Linked DNA regions of Homo sapiens. The protein of the gene in region 7 purifies or fractionates together with the protein of the main gene of each other region. This does not show direct contact. Each region holds a gene or a part of one and is shown on either strand. Other genes may lie near its edges. The genes, in order: MAP1B, NISCH, EVA1C, KIAA0232, FBN2, MAP1S and DBF4B.

What was found.
Region 1: the proteins of DBF4B (region 7) and MAP1B purify together in Homo sapiens (affinity purification with mass spectrometry; 3 studies listed by BioGRID and IntAct, with this or other methods). This does not show direct contact.
Region 2: the proteins of DBF4B (region 7) and NISCH purify together in Homo sapiens (co-immunoprecipitation; one large-scale study listed by IntAct). This does not show direct contact.
Region 3: the proteins of DBF4B (region 7) and EVA1C purify together in Homo sapiens (affinity purification with mass spectrometry; 3 studies listed by BioGRID and IntAct, with this or other methods). This does not show direct contact.
Region 4: the proteins of DBF4B (region 7) and KIAA0232 purify together in Homo sapiens (co-immunoprecipitation; one large-scale study listed by IntAct). This does not show direct contact.
Region 5: the proteins of DBF4B (region 7) and FBN2 purify together in Homo sapiens (co-immunoprecipitation; one large-scale study listed by IntAct). This does not show direct contact.
Region 6: the proteins of DBF4B (region 7) and MAP1S purify together in Homo sapiens (affinity purification with mass spectrometry; 3 studies listed by BioGRID and IntAct, with this or other methods). This does not show direct contact.

What each region holds. Positions count from the first base shown.
Region 1 is NC_000005.10:72,190,975-72,194,474, forward strand, and holds part of MAP1B (microtubule-associated protein 1B), read left to right. Parts: intron 1-2,891; coding exon 2,892-3,500. UniProt on the Homo sapiens protein: Facilitates tyrosination of alpha-tubulin in neuronal microtubules. Phosphorylated MAP1B is required for proper microtubule dynamics and plays a role in the cytoskeletal changes that accompany neuronal differentiation and neurite extension.
Region 2 is NC_000003.12:52,486,604-52,490,085, forward strand, and holds part of NISCH (nischarin), read left to right. Parts: intron 1-592; coding exon 593-2,002; intron 2,003-2,732; coding exon 2,733-3,075; intron 3,076-3,471; coding exon 3,472-3,482. UniProt on the Homo sapiens protein: Acts either as the functional imidazoline-1 receptor (I1R) candidate or as a membrane-associated mediator of the I1R signaling.
Region 3 is NC_000021.9:32,419,206-32,422,705, reverse strand, and holds part of EVA1C (protein eva-1 homolog C isoform 1 precursor), read right to left. Parts: intron 2,884-3,500; exon of another isoform or gene 1-2,883. UniProt on the Homo sapiens protein: Binds heparin.
Region 4 is NC_000004.12:6,789,227-6,792,726, forward strand, and holds part of KIAA0232 (uncharacterized protein KIAA0232), read left to right. Parts: intron 1-3,500.
Region 5 is NC_000005.10:128,307,746-128,311,245, reverse strand, and holds part of FBN2 (fibrillin-2 precursor), read left to right. Parts: intron 1-1,137; coding exon 1,138-1,263; intron 1,264-1,846; coding exon 1,847-1,999; intron 2,000-3,500.
Region 6 is NC_000019.10:17,725,980-17,729,479, forward strand, and holds part of MAP1S (microtubule-associated protein 1S), read left to right. Parts: coding exon 1-2,193; intron 2,194-3,500. UniProt on the Homo sapiens protein: Microtubule-associated protein that mediates aggregation of mitochondria resulting in cell death and genomic destruction (MAGD). Plays a role in anchoring the microtubule organizing center to the centrosomes. Binds to DNA. Plays a role in apoptosis.
Region 7 is NC_000017.11:44,749,715-44,752,764, forward strand, and holds the end of DBF4B (protein DBF4 homolog B), read left to right. Parts: exon of another isoform or gene 1-833; intron 834-880; coding exon 881-1,539; 3' UTR 1,540-2,225; coding exon of another isoform or gene 2,226-2,249; 3' UTR 2,250-2,550; downstream 2,551-3,050. UniProt on the Homo sapiens protein: Regulatory subunit for CDC7 which activates its kinase activity thereby playing a central role in DNA replication and cell proliferation. Required for progression of S and M phases.

The DNA.
Region 1 (3,500 bases), on a different chromosome or scaffold from region 7:
TTTAATCAGAAAAAGTAATTAACAAAAAAGATTATCTTTGTCCCAAAGCATATTCCTCCTTGTTGCATCTGTCATCCAACTTTGTAAGAACCAGGGTAGCACTCAGTGTGGTTACATCTGAAGTACCCACTCCAGGAAGATAACATGTGTTGAACTGGCCAAGTTTGGCACACAGATCAACAAACATCTACTGAGCCTGATTATGTATTGAGGAAACAAAGATAACTAAGATACAAAGATACAGAAGATATATTTCCTGCTATCAGAAATGTTTAGAGTAGTGGGTTATAATAGTTACCATTTATCATGGTGATGATTTCCCAATTTGTTCAGAAGAAGCCTCAGTTTCCAAGTCTAAGAACTAGTCACAAGCTTCCTTGCCACTGCTAACATTGTTGGATCCTCCTTATGGTTCTCATCTATTCATTGAATAAGCTTGGTCAGGTGCTGCCGTGGGCTGGCCACTCTTAAGACCCTGTCTTTGCCCTTGAGGCACTCTCTACTGTGCTTGTTGGCCCACAGGTCTGGAAAGAGGCTGTGGGGGAAAACACGGGCTTCATTCTGTTGTGTAGTTCCAAGGATGTAGGAGTTGTTCTTCCTCCTCCTCCCTCTGCCCAATTCCATCTGTCTGTTTTATGACTGAGGGCTCTGTCCAGCCCTGTCTCTGCATTCTTGTCTCATCATTCAGAATGTGCTGCTGTTTCTTCAGAGGGACCAGATTTTCCTTCTCTGGAAAGAAACCTGTCAAAGCAATGCTGGCTTTCTTTTCTGCTTTGCCTTGTACATCACGGTTGTTCATTCACCAGTGTCTCTTGGCTATCTTTCATGACCTCTGACTTCTCAGAATTCTGTGCAATCTTGTTTTGTTTTGGGGTCATTTCCTGCATTTCATAGAAATTCTCTGGATAGAGGTGAAAAGACGGAAAGTAGGAAGATATTCCTTAAGTCTTTCTACCTTCTGCTTCAACCTGGTAATTACATACTTTACATAAAAAGAGCCAGTGATTGAATGCCCCCTACTCACAGCTGGATTATACCCTTGGCTGCCACACCTCTCAGCTAGGGTGGAATTTCAAAAATTAAAATGAACTAAACTTAATTTTTAAGTTTCACTATTAAAGATACAGCAGTTATTCTAGATTTGCCCCCTAAAACATATTATAAAACATGAATAGTTTGCATGTGCTTTGTGTGAAAATTGGGATCTAGAGACTTTTAATTGTGCTATAGTGATTGTGATGAGAGTCTCTGCTAACTATTGTACAAAAAACCATATTTGATGCCCTATGTTTGCTTTGGCCAGCAAATCATTTGAGCAAAGATGCCTGTCCCCTCTACCCAAAGATGGTATTACCATTTGCTTTTTCACTTTTCTTAGCTCCCAAAAACAGGAGTTGATTCTTATCCTTTTTACAGAAAATTGTGAAGTCACAGAAAAACAGCAAAGTTTTATTATTTTGTTATTTTGCGGCCCTTTACATAAAATGTTATGCTTAGGACTAATATGCTAACAAAACAAAAATGACTATTTTACTGCAATATTGCAGTCGAATATAGGAAAACTCAGATTCTATAAATTATTCTTACACACATTCATAATAGTAGCCTCAGAATGCTGATAGTCAGGAGATAGAGGAAACTAATCTAATACTAGAAGGTAAGAGTTCAGACCTGCTGGCTCAGGGATGCCTGGACCAAATGAAACCTTGGCTTTACCCCTTGATCATTTGTCATCCAGAATACAGAGCCCTTTTCAGTCGAAACTCTGAGCTGATTTGTGAGCTTTACTGAGACGGAAAGAATATTGGAGTTGATGGCATGATTCTCCATCACTAATTTGCTAGGCTAAGACCATGAAATATATGGCCATAATATGGAGTGAGAGAGACAAGTAGTGTTTTTATTAAACCACAATTTCTGTTTTGGTCCTGATTTGCTTTTCTATGTTTACATCCTTGGGAAGTACTAAACAATGTGTTGAAAAATGTTTCAGCCACATTTGATCTTAGCTGCTCACACCCAACTTGCCCTGAAAAGAATGGGAGCAGTAAGAGAACAGAGTGGCTCACTGTGGAGTTAAACATGAGCAAATGGGGAACGAACTTGGCCAAACCACTTTAATGTCATGGCTTTAATAAAAAAGTATTTGTATCTGCAGAGAATATGCTGGGTGACCCACTCATGTTTCAATCAGCGTGCACTGATGCCAGAAACCAGTAATTTTTTGTAGTAATAGGCAATCCGTAACTTCTTGTCTCCTATGGGGAAAAACCCACCAAGGTTTTTTCTTTTTTACATGCCAGATCCTGAAAGGAGGCCACAACAAGTGCCCTGTTAATCTGAATTTCTTTAAGGTATCCATCAGGCCTTTTTTTTTTTTTTTTTTGCCAAGTCTAGTGGAATAAAAGAAAATATTTTTTATTAGTGGTGAAATGACCCAGACAGCTTTCTCTTGTGATAGTTTAACGTTTTTTTTTAAAGGGCATCTTTGCCTTTATTCTAGGGGTAATATTCAAAGTGTTTCATAACCACTGCAGCACAATCCTCAGTTGCCCAGGTGGTCACTGGTGTTAGAACTGGAGCAGAGTACTGGCATTCCCCTGCTGGGCAGGAATAGATGGTGGAGGGGTTGTTGGGGAGGTGCCAGGGCGAGTGGGTACTGGTTGAGGTAGAAGCCAGTAGCAGCGGGGCTCAGGACAAAGGCTGTTCACCTTCCAGTAGGGAAGTATTTCAGCATTTAAGCAACCAACATCACTATGAGAGTGCATGTCTGAAACTGGTCCTATGTGCATCCTGTGATCCTGTAACACATAGTTATAGCTGGAGATGATGGATCAGTGATGATAATCACTTACACCTTTTCTTTCTTTCTTTCTTTCTTTAAAACCCAGATCGGGGAGTTACTAAGCACCACCCATCCTGCCAACAAAGCCAGCTTAACCCTGTTCTGTCCTGAAGAAGGGGACTGGAAGAACTCCAATCTTGACAGACACAATCTCCAAGACTTCATCAATATTAAACTCAATTCAGCTTCTATCTTGCCAGAAATGGAAGGACTTTCTGAGTTTACCGAGTATCTCTCAGAATCAGTGGAAGTCCCATCTCCCTTTGACATCTTGGAACCTCCCACATCGGGTGGATTTCTGAAGCTCTCCAAGCCCTGCTGTTATATTTTTCCAGGAGGGAGGGGCGATTCTGCCTTGTTTGCAGTGAATGGTTTCAATATGCTCATCAATGGCGGATCAGAGAGAAAATCCTGCTTCTGGAAGCTCATCCGACACTTAGACCGAGTGGACTCCATCCTGCTCACCCACATTGGGGATGACAATTTGCCTGGAATAAACAGCATGTTACAGCGGAAAATTGCAGAGCTCGAGGAAGAACAGTCCCAGGGCTCCACCACAAATAGTGACTGGATGAAAAACCTCATCTCCCCTGACTTAGGAGTTGTATTTCTCAATGTACCTGAAAATCTCAAAAATCCAGAGCCAAACATCAAG
Region 2 (3,482 bases), on a different chromosome or scaffold from region 7:
TTCGCCATGTTGGACAGTTACATTCTTAAAGGGCTGCTGAAGATCGTATGGACATGGTAGCCCATAAATCCCAAAATGTGTACTCTGACCCTTTACAGAAGCTTACTAACTCCCACTCTACATGTGAGGGCTGCGGTGGCCAAGAAGAGCTGGAATTTAAGTGTGAAGGTCCTAAGACCTGCCCCAGCCCACTTCCCTGCCCCGGAGGCCACCAGGGGTGACAAGTAGATTCATGCCCTGGAGTGTTCCTTCTCTCCGGGGCTTATGGCAGCAACTGAATGACTTAGAAGTCCATGGGAGTGCTTCTGTTGTGGGAACTCGTGTGGTCTGGGCATAGCTGTGCCAGGCACCTATGGTCCAAGCCCCTAGAAGCATAGACTCTGACCAAACTGGCGACCCAGCCTTCCAGCAGGCAGCACTGGCTCCCACCAGGGCCCTCATCCTGGGAACTGACTTGGCCATGTGGGAGGCTTGGGAGACCCATGGGTTGGTTTCTCAGGGTCAGGGTGTAGCAGTGGGCTCCAGATGTGGCAGGTGGGAGGTGGGAGGGGCCCCTCCCAGCATGCCACTGACCTGGCCTCTCCCTGCACAGCCCAGAACATGCCGAGCCGGAGGTCCAGGTGGTGCCGGGGTCTGGCCAGATCATCTTCCTGCCCTTCACCTGCATTGGCTACACGGCCACCAATCAGGACTTCATCCAGCGCCTGAGCACACTGATCCGGCAGGCCATCGAGCGGCAGCTGCCTGCCTGGATCGAGGCTGCCAACCAGCGGGAGGAGGGCCAGGGTGAACAGGGCGAGGAGGAGGATGAGGAGGAGGAAGAAGAGGAGGACGTGGCTGAGAACCGCTACTTTGAAATGGGGCCCCCAGACGTGGAGGAGGAGGAGGGAGGAGGCCAGGGGGAGGAAGAGGAGGAGGAAGAGGAGGATGAAGAGGCCGAGGAGGAGCGCCTGGCTCTGGAATGGGCCCTGGGCGCGGACGAGGACTTCCTGCTGGAGCACATCCGCATCCTCAAGGTGCTGTGGTGCTTCCTGATCCATGTGCAGGGCAGTATCCGCCAGTTCGCCGCCTGCCTTGTGCTCACCGACTTCGGCATCGCAGTCTTCGAGATCCCGCACCAGGAGTCTCGGGGCAGCAGCCAGCACATCCTCTCCTCCCTGCGCTTTGTCTTTTGCTTCCCGCATGGCGACCTCACCGAGTTTGGCTTCCTCATGCCGGAGCTGTGTCTGGTGCTCAAGGTACGGCACAGTGAGAACACGCTCTTCATTATCTCGGACGCCGCCAACCTGCACGAGTTCCACGCGGACCTGCGCTCATGCTTTGCACCCCAGCACATGGCCATGCTGTGTAGCCCCATCCTCTACGGCAGCCACACCAGCCTGCAGGAGTTCCTGCGCCAGCTGCTCACCTTCTACAAGGTGGCTGGCGGCTGCCAGGAGCGCAGCCAGGGCTGCTTCCCCGTCTACCTGGTCTACAGTGACAAGCGCATGGTGCAGACGGCCGCCGGGGACTACTCAGGCAACATCGAGTGGGCCAGCTGCACACTCTGTTCAGCCGTGCGGCGCTCCTGCTGCGCGCCCTCTGAGGCCGTCAAGTCCGCCGCCATCCCCTACTGGCTGTTGCTCACGCCCCAGCACCTCAACGTCATCAAGGCCGACTTCAACCCCATGCCCAACCGTGGCACCCACAACTGTCGCAACCGCAACAGCTTCAAGCTCAGCCGTGTGCCGCTCTCCACCGTGCTGCTGGACCCCACACGCAGCTGTACCCAGCCTCGGGGCGCCTTTGCTGATGGCCACGTGCTAGAGCTGCTCGTGGGGTACCGCTTTGTCACTGCCATCTTCGTGCTGCCCCACGAGAAGTTCCACTTCCTGCGCGTCTACAACCAGCTGCGGGCCTCGCTGCAGGACCTGAAGACTGTGGTCATCGCCAAGACCCCCGGGACGGGAGGCAGCCCCCAGGGCTCCTTTGCGGATGGCCAGCCTGCCGAGCGCAGGGCCAGGTGAGATCAAGCACAGCTCTCAGGGGCCCCGGGGGCATGGGTCTGGCATGTGTGTGATCTCAGCATCTGCGGCTAGTGTGGGCTGGGAGTTGCTGCGAGAGCTGGGCCCCCTCCCCCCCTGCCCCTCGCCCCCCCCGGGCCTCCCTCTACATCACCACCCCAGGTTTGGTGCCAGGCTGCTCCTTATCTCAGTGCTGTAGAAGAAGCCCAGGAAAGCTGTCCTCTCACAAAATGGGTTGGCCCAGCCTCTTGCCACCCATGAAGGGCAGGCCAAGGGGGCTGCCCCACCTTTGCCTGCCCAGTGGGAGAGCAACAGGCTGCAGCACACCGAGGCCAGGAGAGCTGTCACCCTGGCTGCTGTGCTCCTCTGGGCCCAAGCATGGCCTCTGGGCACTACCTCCTCCAGGGTCACAGTCCCACGGATGGCTCTGTGGGCCAGGATCTGCCTTAGGCTTCACCCACCTCAACATCTTGCTGTGTTGTTCAGGCTGGTCTCAAACTTTGGGCTCAAACAATCCTCCGCCTCAGCCTCCCAAAGTGCTGGGATTACAGACATGAGCCACCGTGCCCGGCCGTGCTGTTCTGTTCTCCAATAGAGAAGCTGGTGGAAGTCCCCAGTAACCCAGAGGTGATGTGTGATGCACACAGTCTCCTCACTCTGAAGCTGCACATGCGATGTGAATCTTCATTTGGGGTCCGCTGTTAATATGGTGTTTTTCGGGGGATACAGCAATGACCAGCGTCCCCAGGAGGTCCCAGCAGAGGCTCTGGCCCCGGCCCCAGCGGAAGTCCCAGCTCCAGCCCCTGCAGCAGCCTCAGCCTCAGGCCCAGCGAAGACTCCGGCCCCAGCAGAGGCCTCAACTTCAGCTTTGGTCCCAGAGGAGACGCCAGTGGAAGCTCCAGCCCCACCCCCAGCCGAGGCCCCTGCCCAGTACCCGAGTGAGCACCTCATCCAGGCCACCTCGGAGGAGAATCAGATCCCCTCGCACTTGCCTGCCTGCCCGTCGCTCCGGCACGTCGCCAGCCTGCGGGGCAGCGCCATCATCGAGCTCTTCCACAGCAGCATTGCTGAGGTAGCGGCCCGGGTGTGGGTGCCAGCTATGGCACGGCCAGTCCTGAGGGCGAGGCCAAGCTTGGCTTCAGGTCAGCCTCAGGTCCCTGGACTTCCCTGATGTCGGAGTCCTCAGCTGAGCTGCTCACAGCTTTGAGGACCTGGGCAGTGAGGTCCTGAGTTGCCCTCCCCTGGCCATTTGTGCTGTGTCACCACCTCCTGTGCCACTTCCAGCCCCAGGTAGACCTCCCACCAACAGCCATCTCCCACCCCTCTCTTCCTCTCTGCCTTGAAGCATACGGATTCATTGGTGAGCCAAGAGGGGCTTCCCATGTCTCCTTGTGGAAGCTGTGGGCATGTCCCTGGTATGTGCAGGTTGCTAGGGTGGTGGAGCTGACAGGAGGCCCCCCGTCTTCAGGTTGAAAACGA
Region 3 (3,500 bases), on a different chromosome or scaffold from region 7:
TAATTCAGGACTGATGGTTGTTTTTTGTTTGTTTGTTTCTCAGAACCTGGAAAATATTATTTCGCTGTCTATGGCTCCCACTGTTTTTGTAGCAAAGACTTTATAGATAACATTTCCTTTACTATCTGATTGCTTTTAAGACTGTCACTTTGTCTTTAGTATTTTACAGTTTCAGTATGACACATTCAGGTATAAATTTATTTTATTTATCTTCCTTGGAATGCTTAACTCTGAATCTTTCATCAATCCTTAAAAATTAATCCTAGGACACCATCACTTTGAGTGTTGCCTCTCTCTCCTTTTCCCTACTTTCTTTTTCTGGAATACTGATCAGATGTATATTCAACCATCATTCCATCCTCCATGTCTTATGACTTTTCTTCCATGTTTTCCATATGTTTACCTGTTTTGCTTCATTCCGGATAATTTCTCCAGCTTTTTTTTCCACCTCACTGTTTCTCTCTTCAGCTATACCTAATCTGCTCTTCAACCTACCCATCAGGCTTTTCATGTCAATGAATATATTTTTCATGTTAGTAGATATCTTTGATTCTTTTACAAATACACCTGTTTTTTCTCGATAGCCTTTTGTTCCTTTCTCATGTTTTAGATTCCTTCTTAAATTTCTTTTTAGATTCCCTCTTTTTTTTTTTTTTTTTTTGAGACAGGGTCTTGCTCTGTTGCCCAGGCTGGAGTGCAGTGGCACAGTCTCAGCTCACTGCAACCTCCACCTCCCAGGTTCCAGTGATTCTCATGTCGCAGCCTTCCAACTAGCTGGGATTACAGGCACCCGCCACCACACCCAGCTAATTTTTGTATTTTTTAGTAGAGACAGGGCTTCGCCATGTTGGCCAGGCTGGTCTTGAACTCCTGACCTCAGGTGATCCACCCACGTCGGCCTCCCAAAGTGCTGGGATTACAGGCATGAGCCACCATGCCCAGACCTAGATTCTCTCTTTTATTACTTAAGAACCGTGTCATTGCTGCTGACTACTGCTCATATAATGTAATTTTGAATTGTGTGATCATAATCAGCAGCATTTTAGCTATAGGAATCTATAGATGGGCCTATATTGATGATATTCCCATGAAGGCAGTATCTGTGTGTTTGTTTTTGCCAGGTATCATGGGACAACTTTATTAGTTTCTCAACTTGGGTTTCCCAGTAAAGGTAATATGAATTCAAAACCCAGACTCTCCAAAAGGCAGAATTTTGATTACACCATCTCAAGAGACATTATTTTTTTCTCCAATCCTGAACCTAGGCTATGACAAGTTTCCTTGTCATCTTTCTTTACAAGAAGGCTGATTTGTTTTACATCCACCTTTTAATGAAGGCTTAGGTTTTCAAAGTCCTGGCTTTATATAGAGGTCTTTATTCTAATTCCTCACTATACAGTGGTCTCACTCCTTATCGCCTGCGCTCAGGCACCTGTTAAATCTTCGTTGTCAAGACCATCAAGCAACTCCAACGTAGCCATAGGGTTAGCACCAGCTATCATCCCTAGTTCTCTATTCTCTCTTCATTTTTGTTTCCTCACCACTCATTTATACATTAAAAGATTTTTCTTATATTTTATTCAGCATTTCTAGGTGTTTTGTTGGGGAAATAGTTTCAGAACACCAATTTCCAGAAACAAATTACAGACCCAATTCTATAATCAGTTCTTTGAGGCTAGATGGTACTATCTTTAAACAGGACAAGGAATGGACATTACTTATGTAAGTCCTGGGAAAGATTTGGCTCTAGGAAATGAAGAGATAAACATGACAGAAGTGCCACTGCTTTAAACTGCATGTAATTTATTTTGTTTTATTCCCTTGGTATTAGAAAGGCTACCTGGATTCAAATCCCCAAAAGTTACTAAATTGCTCTTTGCCTCAGTTTCTTGAACTTTTTATACTAGCATCTCCTTTATAGCTACAACTGGGAGGATTAAATGAGTTAACATGAAGTTCTTTGAACAGTGTCTGGCATAGAGTGCTTTATGTGCTTAATAAATTATTTTTAGGGCCAGGCACAGTGGCTCACTCCTGTAATCCCAGCACTTTGGGAGGCCAGGGCGGGTGGCTCTCTTGAGTCCAGGAGTTTGAGACCAGCCTGGGCAACATAGTGAGACCCTGTCTCTACAAAAAAAAAATGCCAAAAAAAATTAGCTAGGCCTGCTGGCATGTGACTATAGTCCCAACTACTAGGGAGTGCTGAGGTGGGAGGATGGCTTGAGCCCCAGAGGTTGAGGCTGCAGTGAGCCGTGATTGCACCACTGTATTCCAGCCTGGGTGACAGAGCAAGACCCTATCTCAAAAGTAAAAGATAATTTTTTTTCTTTTTTCTTGAGACAGGGTCTCGCTCTATTGCCCAGGCTGGAGTGTGGTGGCATGATCTTGGCTCACTGCAACCTCCGCTTCCCAGGCTCAAGCAATTCTCCTGCCTCAGCCTCCCGAGTGGCTGGGATTACAGGCGCCCACCACCATGCCTGGCTAATTTTTGTATTTTAAGTAGAGACAGGTTTCACCCTATGGGCCAGGCTGTAAAAATTTTTTAAAACCCTAAAAGTATTTTTAACTCACCAACTTTTTTACTCATACTGAGGGAAACCAAGTAAAGAAGTTACTGCCTCTGCTGAGCCGGTGGTGCACACATGGGAGCCAACTAAAGGGGTGGCAGAACGAGATACCCCAAGGGGCAAGGGGAAACTCAGAAGACACCAGAATCACTTGGTCAGCTGCCTTTCCAACCCAAGATTCTTTTTCCAGTACTAAAATCTTCATGACTGTAGGATTTAGGATTTATGTTATTATGAGAAACCATTTCCTTACAGAAGGATACAAATATACCAGCCTCATTAAAATAGTGACAAAGTATCATAAAACTTCAGACCTCCCCCCAGCCCCCACCCCCGCTCCCACCTTCTTGGTCCATTGCTCAGCTTCAGTGACAGTATGTTTTTTTGTTTGTTTGTTTGTTTTTGTTTTTTGTTTGTTTTTGTTTTTACAGGAACTCGCTCTGTCACCCAGGCTGAAGTGCAGAAGCACGATTTCGGCTCACTGCAACCTTCACCTCCTGGGTTCAAGTGATTCTCCTGCCTCAGTCTCCCGAGTAGCTGGGATTACAGGAGCATGCCACTATGCCCAGCTAATTTTTGTATTTTTAGTACAGATGGGGTTTCACCATTTTGGCCAGGCTGGTCTCAAACTCCTGACCTCAAATGATTCACCTGCCTCGGCCTCCCAAAGTGTTGGGATTACAGGCGTGAGCCACAGTGCCCGGCCATCAGTATGGATATTTAAAACCCAATAGGTACTGGGTTCAAATCCTGCTTCTAAATTTTATTAGCAGCTGTGGAGCTGGGGAGAGCAGTACGCAAGTCAGGCAATAGGGGTGGGTAACGAGGGAGCAATTGTTCTCTCATAGTACATTACCCTCAAAGTGGTGCCTCACTAAGAATTTTAAAGATATTAAGCCAACAGGATGGCTGTGAAGATCAGTGACCTCCAAA
Region 4 (3,500 bases), on a different chromosome or scaffold from region 7:
TCCCAAAGTGCTGGGATTACAGGACTGAGCCACCATGCCCGGCCTTTTCTTTTTTTTTTTTTCCCGAGACTGAGTTTTACTCTGTCACCCAGGTTGGAGTATAGTGGCGTGATCTTGGCTTACTGCAACCTCTGTCTCGTGGGTTCAAGTGATTCTCCTGCCTCAGACTCCCCAGTAGCTGGGATTACAGGTGCGTGCCACCATGCCCGGCTAATTTTTTATTTTTTAATAGAGACGGGGTTTCACCATGTTGGCCAGGTTGGTCTTGAACTCCTGACCTCATGATCTTCCTGCCTCGGCCTCCCAAAGTGCTGGGATTACAGGTGTGAGCCACCGTGCCTGGCCAGTCATCTCATTTTCAACTTGCATCTACGTTCTTTCATTAATTTTGTGACTGAGTTGGAGAGGGCTTTTGCATAAACAGATTCATGATGGTGGTCCTAAATTATTCTGAAGACAGGCAAACCTGTCTGTAGATGAGCAGGTTTTTTGCATATGGCTTAAGAAAGTCTGGAAAATTGGCCAGGCATGCTGGCTTGCCTATAATTCCAGCACTTTGGGAAAGCGAGGTGGGAGGATCACTTGAGCCCAGGAGTTTGAGATGTGCCTGGGCAACATGGTGAAACCCTGTTTCTACAAAAAAATTTTAAAAATTAGCCAGGTGTGGTGGCACATGTCTGTAGTCCCAGCTACTTAGGAGGCTGAGGCAGGAGGATCGCTTGAGCCCAGGAGATCAAGGCTGCAGTGAGCCATGATTGCACCACTGGACTCCAGCCTGGGTGACTGAGCGAGACCCTGTCTCAAGAAAAAAAAAAGAGTGGAAAATAGAAATTGTCAAAGTTTACACTATACAGTATGTTATTTTCAGGAAAGCGAATGTTTTCACTTTAATCTTACATCTTGTTAATATACATTAAGCAGTAGAAACTTCCTCTTTGGTATTTGGAATGACTGTTGAGATTTCTGTTTCTGACATCTTCCCTAAGTGCTTACCTGTTGCCAGGCTTTCTCCATATCTGTCTCTTCCTCAGTGTTGCCCCTGGTTGAATAGGGAGAAGATAGGGAAAACCAGCAGTAATTATTTCAGAATTGTTCACCCAGTTTGGAGATTTTTTTCAAGCCCTTCCTTTTTTTATTTAATTTTTTTTTTTTAATTAAAAAAGGTCTTTTTTTTTTTTTTTTTTTTGAGGCAGAGTCTCACTCTGTCACCGAGGCTGGAGTGCGGTGGCACGATCACAGCTCACTACAGCCAGGACCTCCTGGGCTCAAGTGATCCTCCTGCCTCAGCTGGGACTACATGCTCATGTTACCACTCCTGGCTAATTTTTATTCTTTTTATGTAGAGACAGGGTTTTGCCATGTTGCCCAGGCTGATATCAAACTCCTGGCCTCAAGCGATCCTCCCGCCTTGGCCTCTCAAAGTGCTGGGACTGTGGGTATGAGCCACCATGCCAGGCAAGCCCTTTATTAGATGTCTGATTAGTATGTTGCTCCTTGCTAGCATTTTCCCTAAATATTTTAATGGAGAGAAAGTTGAAATAGAGTAGACATGTTTTTAATTCTTTCTTTGGTTGTTTTCCTTGCCACTGCTTTCTTTGGTTAGTTACCATCATAGATAATTGAGTCCTGATTCTACTTTTGTTAATCTTTTGCCAGTACCATCTGAAGGAGTTTCTTGTTTTTATATACTTTTTTTTTTTTTTTTTTTTTTTGAGGCAGTCTTGCTCTGTCACCCAGGCTGGAGTCCAGTGGTACAATCTTGGCTTACTGCAACCTCCACCTCCCGGGTTCAAGCGATTCTCCTGCCTTGGCCTCCTGAGTACCTGGGACTACAGGTGTGTGCCACCATGCCCAGATAATCTTTTGTATTTTTAGTAGAGATGGGGTTTTGCCATGTTGCCCAGGCTGGTCTCGAACTCCTGAGCTCAGGCAGTCCGCCCGCCTTGGCCTCCCAAAGTGTTGGATTACAGGCATGAGCCACCGTGCCTGGCCTGTTTTTATATACTTTAAAGTTTAAATTAAACTTGTTAAAGTATGTGTTTTGTATGATTTGCCAAAACATTGGAATACAAGTAGCTGTCATAAAGCCTTTTTTTTTTTTTTTTTTTTTTTTTTTTGAGACAGGGTCTCATTCTGTCACCCAGGCTAGAGTGCAGTGGCACAATTATGGCTCACTGTAGCCTTGGCCACCTCCCAGGCTCAATTGATCCTCCCACCTCAGCTTCCTGAGTAACTGGGACTACAGTTATGCACCACCACACCCAGCTAATTTTTAAATTTTTTGTAGAGATGGGGTTTTACCACGTTACCCAGGCTGTTCTGGAACTCCTGAACTCAAGCGATGCTCCTGCCTCTGCCTCCCAAAATGCTGGGATTACAGGCGTAAACCACTATGCCTGGACTCAAGCCGACTTTTTAACATGAACAATAAGTCTCTTTCTTCATCTCCCTTCCTATCCTGTATTCATCTTGCCTTGAAGACCACAGATAAATTTTAAAAAATGGAATCATGGTAAAGAGTGTTCTTGTGTCATTATTTAAACAAACACTAAACTTTGTATCTTGGAATGCTTTCCATATCAGACATACAGATTGATACGGGTTGGCTGTGTCCCCACCCAAATCTCATCTTGAATTCCCACATGTTGTAGGAGGGACCTGGTGGGAGGTGATTGAATCATGGGGACAGGTCTTTCTCATGCTGTTCTCATGATAGTGAATACGTCTCATGAGATTTGATGGTTTTAAAAAGGGGAGTTTCCCTGCATAATCTCTCCTCTTTTGACTGTCACCATCCATGTAAGAGGTGACTTTGCTCCTCCTTGCCTTCTGCCATGATTGTGAGGCCTCTGCAGCCACGTGGAACTGTAAGTCAATGAAACCTCTTTCCTTTCTAAATTACCCAGTCTTGGGTATGTCTTTATCAGCATTGCAAAAACAGACTAATACACAGATCTACTTTAGGTACAGATTTGCTTTACCATGTTCTTTTTTTAATATGCCTAGTATTACCTTGTGTGAAGGTGCCTGAATTTATTTAACTAGTTGATATGAAGAGTTTCCAGGTTTTTGTTATTTGTAACACAGTGCTACAGTAAACATTTTTGTACATATGTCTTAGTGAACTTTCATGAGTAACCACCTTACTCTCAGCAGCCTTAAAAAAATTGACCAACAAGTTTCTAACTACTCTGAATAATCATTTGTCATGTTAAAAATTTTCTTGGTGGCTATATTAGTTTTACTACTTTTGTTAAGGCCGGATGTTTTGTTTTCTGAAGTAGTCCTGTGAGATAATTTCATACAATTAAGCACAGATTTTTTATATTGCATGTAGAATATTAAGCTCATAAAGTTTATAAAGGCACAGGGTTGGCTTTATGAGCCTGTAATTGCATCATACAGGGCCCTTGCTTGCTTCAGTGATCTGCTGTTGTAGTCTTGATAGTCTTAGGTTTTTTTTTTTTTGTTTTTTTTTTTTGAGACAGAGTCTCACTCTG
Region 5 (3,500 bases), on a different chromosome or scaffold from region 7:
CTGAGGCCTGAGGGAAAGGCCCATCCTCACATTCTACAAAAGGCTCAATTAAGATTGGTTCATAGCTTTTTTTTTTTTCATATCAATGTAGCTAAGTTGTATGATGATAGACAAATTAATTTATGGCTCGTTGCCATAATTCACTGTATTTTTCCAGGAGGGTTGATTAAATATAAATTGGGAAAATGGGGTAGTGTGAAAACCTAAAATATTAAGTAAGTTATTAGTGAAAATATTGATAAGAATTACATTTTACATAGGAAAAATTGGTAAGCTAAAATGTGACCATTAACTTAATATTGATCAGTAATTTTTAAATGTTGGACTATATGGTATGAAGAAGTTCAAAGGTTATGCAGCTGCCATTCTTGCTTCCATCCCCCCACTTGATCACATGGTATTTCAATTCTTTTAGGGGCCTGTCTCACCACTAAACTGGGGGCTTCTGGAGACAAGGTCCACATCTTACTCATCATTACAGCCATAAGTTCTAGCTTACAGTAGAATCTCAATATTTTAATTGTGAAATGAGTGAATGCTTCTAACTGAACATTAAACATGTAGCGTAATTATTTCCATTATAACTTTTCTTTTGGAACATGTTTGATAAATGTATCTGGAAGAAATAGGATGTAATGAGGAGAACAACCAGCAGCTGCACTGCTTTAAGAATCTCTGAATAGTTACTAATTTGAAAGAAGCTACAAAGACAAAGGCTTTCCCAACCTGCATTCACTTTAAAGTTGGCATTAAAACTTAGCCTAAGTGACATAGGACAAAAGCAGGCTTTAAAGAAATTCCAATTGAAGAATGCGAATTGCAATAAAAAAAAAAAAAAAAAAATATATATATATATATATATATATATATATATATATATGTGCCAAGGAAATTATTTTTTGCCACTTTAGAATAATTTCTTTTGATGCTTTATATTTTTTAATATGGGGATTTTTTTCTTTTGAAGAAAGATGTATCTGTGTTATATAAATGCATATTTGGGATATTTTCTTTATTTCTAAGTTTTGCATAAATGGGGATTTAGAGAATCACCTATGCTTTGTTCAGTCATCTAAGTAATATAAATTCATTGAAAAAATAGATTTATTAATTAATAGATATTCTTGCCTACTCTAGATATTGATGAGTGTTTTGCACATCCTGGTGTGTGTGGGCCTGGGACCTGCTATAACACCCTGGGAAATTACACCTGCATTTGCCCACCTGAGTACATGCAGGTCAATGGAGGCCACAACTGCATGGGTAGGTAAAGAACTCTGAGATTAATTAGAGCACAGTTGTTGACTTCACACATAAAGCACTTACGTCTCAGAATTATTGTTTGGAAGTTTGGAAGTTCAGTCTTCGTGAATTGAGATATTTCAGAGTCTTGCAAGCTGCTGGCTTAGTATCAAGTTTTTGACCTTTGGGTATACATTTAAATTTTTAAAAGCATGAGTCTAATGTAGAAAATTTCCTCAAATGTTATATATTCTTAAATTTTTCATCTCCATTCATATAGTGTGAACATTAATTTACAAATAAAAGAACATTTAAATTTTAATGCTTTATTTTTTTAATTAAATAAATGATTTTGAGAGAAAAACAAATATGTATTAACATTGTCTCCCAAGAAAATTATAAGTGAAAACCTTTAAGGATAAAGGAGAGATGTTAATCTAAAAATGATTTATGTTTAAGGAGTTATTTTAAGATAGCTTCAAATGACTAAAAAGGGTTTCCGAGTTGTGTTCATCAGGAAAGCTTGATGTCTACAGCTGTGTGGGCTTCATTATAAACTACTCGTGGATACAAATGGCTAGTTTCTTTGTTTTTCTTTATATAGACATGAGAAAAAGCTTTTGCTACCGAAGCTATAATGGAACCACTTGTGAGAATGAGTTGCCTTTCAATGTGACAAAAAGGATGTGCTGCTGCACATATAATGTGGGCAAAGCCTGGAACAAACCTTGTGAACCATGCCCAACTCCAGGAACAGGTAAGCACACGGCTCGTGCATCTGCTGACTGCCACATCAGTGATACACGCATATATCTAACAGTATAGTCAAAGTCACTGCATGCTAAAACTAGAGATGCTCAGTTCCAAAAATTCCCAAGAGCATCATATGGTTCTGTTTCCCAAGTGATCCTCTTTGGGATTCAAACACTAACTTCTGAGACATTATGTTGGATAGGCTTGTGAATCCTGAAAATAAGATCCATTGCTGAAGAGTTAGAGTTGATAGCATTAGTCCATTTAAACTCATTATCTTAAACTGTGCTTGTCAATTATTGATTTATTCATCAAACAAATATTTCTTGAGTAACTACTGTATGTCACTGTGCTAGACATGGAAAGTATAATATTTGGAGAAAAACTAAATTCAATAAGGATTTTTTTTTAGTTCAGCCGTGGAAAATATGCAAAAAGTGTTTTTTATGAGCGAATTTTACATAAAAGCAACCCATTGTCATAATGTGCCTTTTACATCTTCTTCCTCAGACATCAGTGAAATTTTTAGGCAAAAAATAGAGCTTGTCTTCACTTGGTCATGTTTTTTTCACAAGACAGTTTCTTTTGAAAGAAAAAATGAAAGATAATAGAGATAAGAGCAAAAATGCTTGTCTTAAAATTGCTGTCCATCAGGCTCTCTTTTATGACCTGGAGAATGGCAACTTTTAATAACTATAGATACTAAGAGTTGAACCAGTAGGCCAAATAAGAAACAGTGATTATGCATTTGTTACCAAATATTACTTAGGGTATATGTATTTAAATGTTCCATTTAATGTATTGATGAAATTAAGGAGAGAAATGATGAAAAGCAACACATAGGCCTTTTTCAGTGGCTCCAATTCACTGGTCAAATGGATTTTCTTAGCCTTATCTTGCCATTATTATGTTCCATAAAATTAAATAGAAACATTCCTACAATTCTCAACTTTAAAACTCCATAGTTACAAATTTAAGATCATTGATTTGGGGAATTAAAATGGCACTTTCTTTGTGAGAAGAAGCGAAAGGCTTGGAGTTGAGAGACGTGTCTGTATTTAAATCAAAACTCTTAAGATACTTATTGTGGAACCTCCTGCAGAGTATGTATCCTTTCTGAAACTAATTTCTCATGTATAAAATAGGAATAATAAATAATTACAGTGACTAATTCATATGGGTGCAATGACAATTAGGGAGATTATACATATAAATTATAATTTGAAGATTTCCAGACAATTAGAAACCATTAAGTTGAGCATCTGTGGTCTTTCTATCTGTTCTCAATACTCGGTATATATTGATGGATGAAATATACAATATCCCTGACCTGATAGCACTTGGAATATAGTATGCAGTTTAAGTTTTATATAATACTGTTTTCAGGAGTTTTACTCACTTGTATAGCAGTGAGCGTCAGAAGCATTTTTCATCTTGCAAATTAGAATTCTTTTAAATTTCCATTGATTTGGTTAATTATGTGTAAGAATACTTCTTATAGTCCC
Region 6 (3,500 bases), on a different chromosome or scaffold from region 7:
CGCAGCTGCCCAACTCTGAGGGCCTGTGCGAATTCCTGGAGTACGTGGCTGAGTCTCTGGAGCCACCGTCCCCCTTCGAGCTGCTGGAGCCCCCGACCTCCGGGGGCTTCCTCAGGCTGGGCCGGCCCTGCTGCTACATCTTCCCTGGAGGCCTCGGGGATGCCGCCTTCTTCGCCGTCAATGGCTTCACTGTGCTGGTCAACGGTGGCTCAAACCCCAAGTCCAGTTTCTGGAAGCTGGTGCGGCACCTGGACCGCGTGGATGCCGTGCTGGTGACCCACCCTGGCGCCGACAGCCTCCCCGGCCTCAACAGCCTGCTGCGGCGCAAACTGGCGGAGCGCTCCGAGGTGGCTGCTGGTGGGGGCTCCTGGGACGACAGGCTGCGCAGGCTCATCTCCCCCAACCTGGGGGTCGTGTTCTTCAACGCCTGCGAGGCCGCGTCGCGGCTGGCGCGCGGCGAGGATGAGGCGGAGCTGGCGCTGAGCCTCCTGGCGCAGCTGGGCATCACGCCTCTGCCACTCAGCCGCGGCCCCGTGCCAGCCAAACCCACCGTGCTCTTCGAGAAGATGGGCGTGGGCCGGCTGGACATGTATGTGCTGCACCCGCCCTCCGCCGGCGCCGAGCGCACGCTGGCCTCTGTGTGCGCCCTGCTGGTGTGGCACCCCGCCGGCCCCGGCGAGAAGGTGGTGCGCGTGCTGTTCCCCGGTTGCACCCCGCCCGCCTGCCTCCTGGACGGCCTGGTCCGCCTGCAGCACTTGAGGTTCCTGCGAGAGCCCGTGGTGACGCCCCAGGACCTGGAGGGGCCGGGGCGAGCCGAGAGCAAAGAGAGCGTGGGCTCCCGGGACAGCTCGAAGAGAGAGGGCCTCCTGGCCACCCACCCTAGACCTGGCCAGGAGCGCCCTGGGGTGGCCCGCAAGGAGCCAGCACGGGCTGAGGCCCCACGCAAGACTGAGAAAGAAGCCAAGACCCCCCGGGAGTTGAAGAAAGACCCCAAACCGAGTGTCTCCCGGACCCAGCCGCGGGAGGTGCGCCGGGCAGCCTCTTCTGTGCCCAACCTCAAGAAGACGAATGCCCAGGCGGCACCCAAGCCCCGCAAAGCGCCCAGCACGTCCCACTCTGGCTTCCCGCCGGTGGCAAATGGACCCCGCAGCCCGCCCAGCCTCCGATGTGGAGAAGCCAGCCCCCCCAGTGCAGCCTGCGGCTCTCCGGCCTCCCAGCTGGTGGCCACGCCCAGCCTGGAGCTGGGGCCGATCCCAGCCGGGGAGGAGAAGGCACTGGAGCTGCCTTTGGCCGCCAGCTCAATCCCAAGGCCACGCACACCCTCCCCTGAGTCCCACCGGAGCCCCGCAGAGGGCAGCGAGCGGCTGTCGCTGAGCCCACTGCGGGGCGGGGAGGCCGGGCCAGACGCCTCACCCACAGTGACCACACCCACGGTGACCACGCCCTCACTACCCGCAGAGGTGGGCTCCCCGCACTCGACCGAGGTGGACGAGTCCCTGTCGGTGTCCTTTGAGCAGGTGCTGCCGCCATCCGCCCCCACCAGTGAGGCTGGGCTGAGCCTCCCGCTGCGTGGCCCCCGGGCGCGGCGCTCGGCTTCCCCACACGATGTGGACCTGTGCCTGGTGTCACCCTGTGAATTTGAGCATCGCAAGGCGGTGCCAATGGCACCGGCACCTGCGTCCCCCGGCAGCTCGAATGACAGCAGTGCCCGGTCACAGGAACGGGCAGGTGGGCTGGGGGCCGAGGAGACGCCACCCACATCGGTCAGCGAGTCCCTGCCCACCCTGTCTGACTCGGATCCCGTGCCCCTGGCCCCCGGTGCGGCAGACTCAGACGAAGACACAGAGGGCTTTGGAGTCCCTCGCCACGACCCTTTGCCTGACCCCCTCAAGGTCCCCCCACCACTGCCTGACCCATCCAGCATCTGCATGGTGGACCCCGAGATGCTGCCCCCCAAGACAGCACGGCAAACGGAGAACGTCAGCCGCACCCGGAAGCCCCTGGCCCGCCCCAACTCACGCGCTGCCGCCCCCAAAGCCACTCCAGTGGCTGCTGCCAAAACCAAGGGGCTTGCTGGTGGGGACCGTGCCAGCCGACCACTCAGTGCCCGGAGTGAGCCCAGTGAGAAGGGAGGCCGGGCACCCCTGTCCAGAAAGTCCTCAACCCCCAAGACTGCCACTCGAGGCCCGTCGGGTGAGTACTGGAGCTGGGGCCCTGGGCTGGGTTAGCAGCTGCTTAGGCTGGAGAGCATAGCTCGTCCCCCTGTTTTTACATTTTCAGTTTTTTTAAAAGAGATGGTCTCACTCTGTCTCTGAGCTGGAGTGCAGTGGTGTGGTCACAGCTCATTGCAGCCTTGAACAATGGGGCTCAAGCCACCCTCCCACCTCAGCCTCTCCAGTAGCTGGGACTACTGGCACCGCCACTACCCCTGCCTAATTTTAAAGTTTTTGGTAGAGATAGGGTCTTACTATGTTGCCTGGGCTGATTTCAAACTCCTGGCCTCAAGCTGTGTGCCCACCTCAGCCTCCCAAAGTGTTGGGATGACTGGCGTGAGCCACGGTGCCCTGCCAGTTCTGTTCTTTTTTTTTTTTTTGAGACAGAATTTCGTTCTTGTTGCCCAGGCAAGAATGCAATGGCACGATCTTGGCTGACTGCAACCTCTGACTCCCGGGTTCAAACAATTCTCCTGTCTCAGCCTCCCGAGTAGGTGGGATTACAGGTGCCTGCCACCACGCCTGGCTAATTTTTGTATTTTTAGTAGAGTTGGGGTTTCACCATGTTGGCCAGGCTGGTCTCGAACTCCGGACCTCAGGTGATCTGCCCACCTTGGCCTCCCAAAGTGCTGGGATTACAGGCATGAGCCACTGCACCCAGCCAAGTCCTCCTGTTCGTAATTACTTCGTGACCTCAGCCGTGCCCACCTCTCCGGGGCTCAGTTTCTCCTGTGAAATGGAAACTGACCTCAGTGTTGAAGCACTTGCCATTCTGAGGTGCCTGGACAGGTGAGCACGTATGCCAACTGTGGGTTTCTAGAAGCCACAATAAGTAAAATGAAACAGTTGAAAATTTAAATAGCGTATTTTATGTAACTGATTGGTTAGGAGGACCCGGCCTATGGTTGCACTCATAGCAGAGCAAAATCAGCAAAGAGAAAAGGCACATAGGGTGAAGTCCAAAGGAAACCAGGCAGAAGCTTCCAGAATCCTCTCCCAGTGGGGCTGCACACCACAGGCTTCATTTCTCCAGTAGCAAGTTGTAACAGTGTGTCCCTCATGGAAGCTCATTAGACACAGCATGCCCAGGTTTCCTATTGGGCCATTACATAGGCATCTTCTGCCTGGCACCCACACTCTAGACTCCCCAAAAAGGAGAAATCAGGTGTGTGGTCCAGTCCAGGCACAGGGAGCCCCTCTCAGACAGGGAATGGTGGGAACCCTCTGCCTAAGATCCAAATTCCCAGAGACCAGCCAAAGGCTCACATTTTAAGCAGGCCTTGCTGA
Region 7 (3,050 bases):
GGAGCTGGGGCAGCAGGAGTCCTGGCCCGGCTTCCTGGCCCTCCACAGGCCCTTGCCTCTCTGCAGAGCCGCGGGTTAGCTGTTGGTGTGCTCCACCCCCAACCCCGGCCTCCTTTCTCACGAGCATGTGGCCGCTCCTGCTTTCCAAAATGACTGTGTTTGTCCCCTCCCCCAGCCCCCCACGCTCCCGCACACAGATCCTCAGGAACATATGAAGCAGAGGAGGGGCTTGGGCTGCACCACTCACAGAGCTCCCTCCCCCAGGCACTTAGTTGGGGCCCAGCACTGACCTTTCCCCTGAGCCCAGGATGTGGCCAGAGCCCCCTCTGGGACCCCTCTCGCCCCTTCTCTGCCTCCTCAGCTTGAGCTGCCTGCCCGAAGTTCGGCTGTTCCGGGGCCAGTGTGTCACCTGCCAACTTCCACATCACCCTCCTCCCTCGCTCCCTCCTCTCCTTCCCCAAGGACCTCCCCCCATTTCTGGCAGCCAAGCCATTAATCTGGAGACAGAAATGGGTTTGCTATCGATTCTCTGGCCACTTTTTCTTTCATTACAATTTGTACCGTGATTCTTCTCACCCTTCTCTGCGTCCGTGCATTTAAAGAGTTGTCTCTTTAAATGTTGAAGCTTCCGGAAGCCTGATGCTATTCTGTGTCTCCTTTCAAAGGAAGAAGGGGGGGCCCAGCTATGGGTGAGGACTCAAGTTATTAGTTTGGAAATAGAGCAACTATGTGTACAGCCCACCTTAGAGGTCATGTTACCCCCTTCCTGTTAAATTTTACAATTAATTTTGGTTCAGGAAATGTAAATAAATTTGTTAATTACAAATAGCAAAGAGATGGGGCTGGAATGCCATATGTCGGTCCTTGATCTGCCCTCCAGTGACCCAAGGCAGGGCTGCGGGCCAGCAGCGATGGACAGAATCACTAGATGGTGTGATGGGACCTCCTGCAAGTCACACATGTGTGAGTGCCACAACCCTCCTGCCGGCCTTGCCCAAGGGCTCCAGGGAGCAGGGCTGCCTCTGTCCCTGCCCAGCCTCCTTTACCCAGTCTCATCTGGTCACTTCCTTGGCTCTGCTGCCTGGGGAGTGGTCGCCTGCAGAGGACATGCCCCTCCATCCCTCCCAAGAAAACTCCTTTGCCCCGGCGGACATTCCTGTTAAGGGCCCACTCCTCTTCCCTGAAGCCAGACCGTGGCTTATGTCTGCACGCTGCTGGGTTCGTCCCTTTCCTTTTGTGACATGGGGTTGCCTCATTCCCCATGACACCACCCCTCTGCATGAGGAAGTTTCCCCTTGCCCCTGTCTCAGACTTGGATACCTTTACCTGCTGCTCACACAAAGCCTGTGGTGCCGGGTTCGGGTGCCCTCATTGTCAACTGCAGGACCCATTCCCCGAACCTCACATCCGTGTACCCTTGCCTTCCCCTCCTATCTCAATGATCATGACCTTGGACATCTCTGCCAGGCCAAACCCCAAGGCTGGAACACTCCTCAGCCATTTCTCCATTGCGGCTTCCTGGCTGTAGACTCAGGTTAGAGGTGAACCCAGAACACCTGAGACTTGACCCAGGATGGATGGGTGCTGCTTGATGTGAATGAGGTCCCGCAGTGGCTCCTTGGCGTGAGCACTGCTCAGACTCCTTTCCACTCCAGCCCCCTTTCCACATCGCACCAGATGACTTTTACCCAGACCCAGTGGGCATTGCCTTATCTTGCAGTCAGTCCCTTTTCAACATGTTGCCGTTTCTTTCTGAAGAGGTGTCCTCCCTCCACAAGTCACACTGTCTGTCCCTGGCCCTCCAGCCCACCTCGCCAACCACTCTTGTTGGTTTCCTTCTCAGACTTGCCACCTTTCCCCTCTGCCCCAAAATGCCATGCTCCTCTCCTGGAAAACACTTGAGTTGATTCAGTAAATCGACTTCAAATACTTGAAGGCTCCCACCTTCTGTTCTCTGGCTCCTTCCTGCGGTCTATACCTACCGCCTCCTCTTCACCTCCTTCCCTTCCACACTTCCTTCCTGGGTAGCTCTGCCTGAAGCATTCCACTAAGATCATCTATTCCAAGGTCATGGACAGGCTACTGGTGACCAAAGTTGGTTCCTTTTCTCCTTTCTTTCCTCCTTGAAGCCTGGCTCCCTTGGTCGCAGCAGCCCCTCAGTGGCCTGGTTCTCCTGTCCCCCTGCCCTTCCTCACCATTGCCCATTCCCTCGTTCGTTCATTCAGCACAGGCCTTGCCGTCTGCCCTGAGTCAGCTCCGAGACACCTGAAGAGCCCTCCAGCCCTAACTACTTTACTCAGACTAGGTCCCCAGGCCTTTGTTCTTGCCTCTTCTCGCTGAGCCTTTCACTTCTCGGCAGATGTGACCGATTGGTAGCTCCACCCCAACTCCCTTCTGCTGGGTGGAATGCAGGAGCTAGCTGCCTCCAACTCACTGTGACCTCAGAAAAATGCCTTTATTACTCGGGCCTCAGTTTCCTCGTCTTTAAGTAAGGGGCTTGGATGAGATGATTTCAGGACCCTTTCCAATAATAAAATACTGTGACTGCCAGCAAATCTTTTATGTCTTTCCCTATCCTGCCACCAGCAGGAGTGCTGTATACCCGAGCACTCCTTCTCATCCTGGATCTTGGCTCCCCTTCCCAGGGGAGTTTCAGCTGTGCCCAGCTCAAACTGTTTTCTTGATCTAAAAAATGGAGGTAATCTAGGCTGGGCACGGTGGCTCACGCCTGTAATCCCTGCACTTTGGGAGGCTGAGGCGGGCGGATCATTTGAGGTCAGGAGTTCGAGACCAGCCTGGCCAACATAGTGAAACCCCATCTCTACTAAAAATACAAAAGTTAGCCGGGCATGCTGGCATGCCTGTAATCCCAGCTACTCGGGAGGCTGAGGCAGGAGAATCACTTGAACCTGGGAGGCAGAGGTTGCAGTGAGCCGAGATTGTGCCACTGCACTCCAGCCTGGGCAACAGGGCGAGACTGTCTCGAAAATAAATAAATAAATAAATAAATACGAAAAATGGAGATAATCATAGTTGCTACCTCGCTAGGA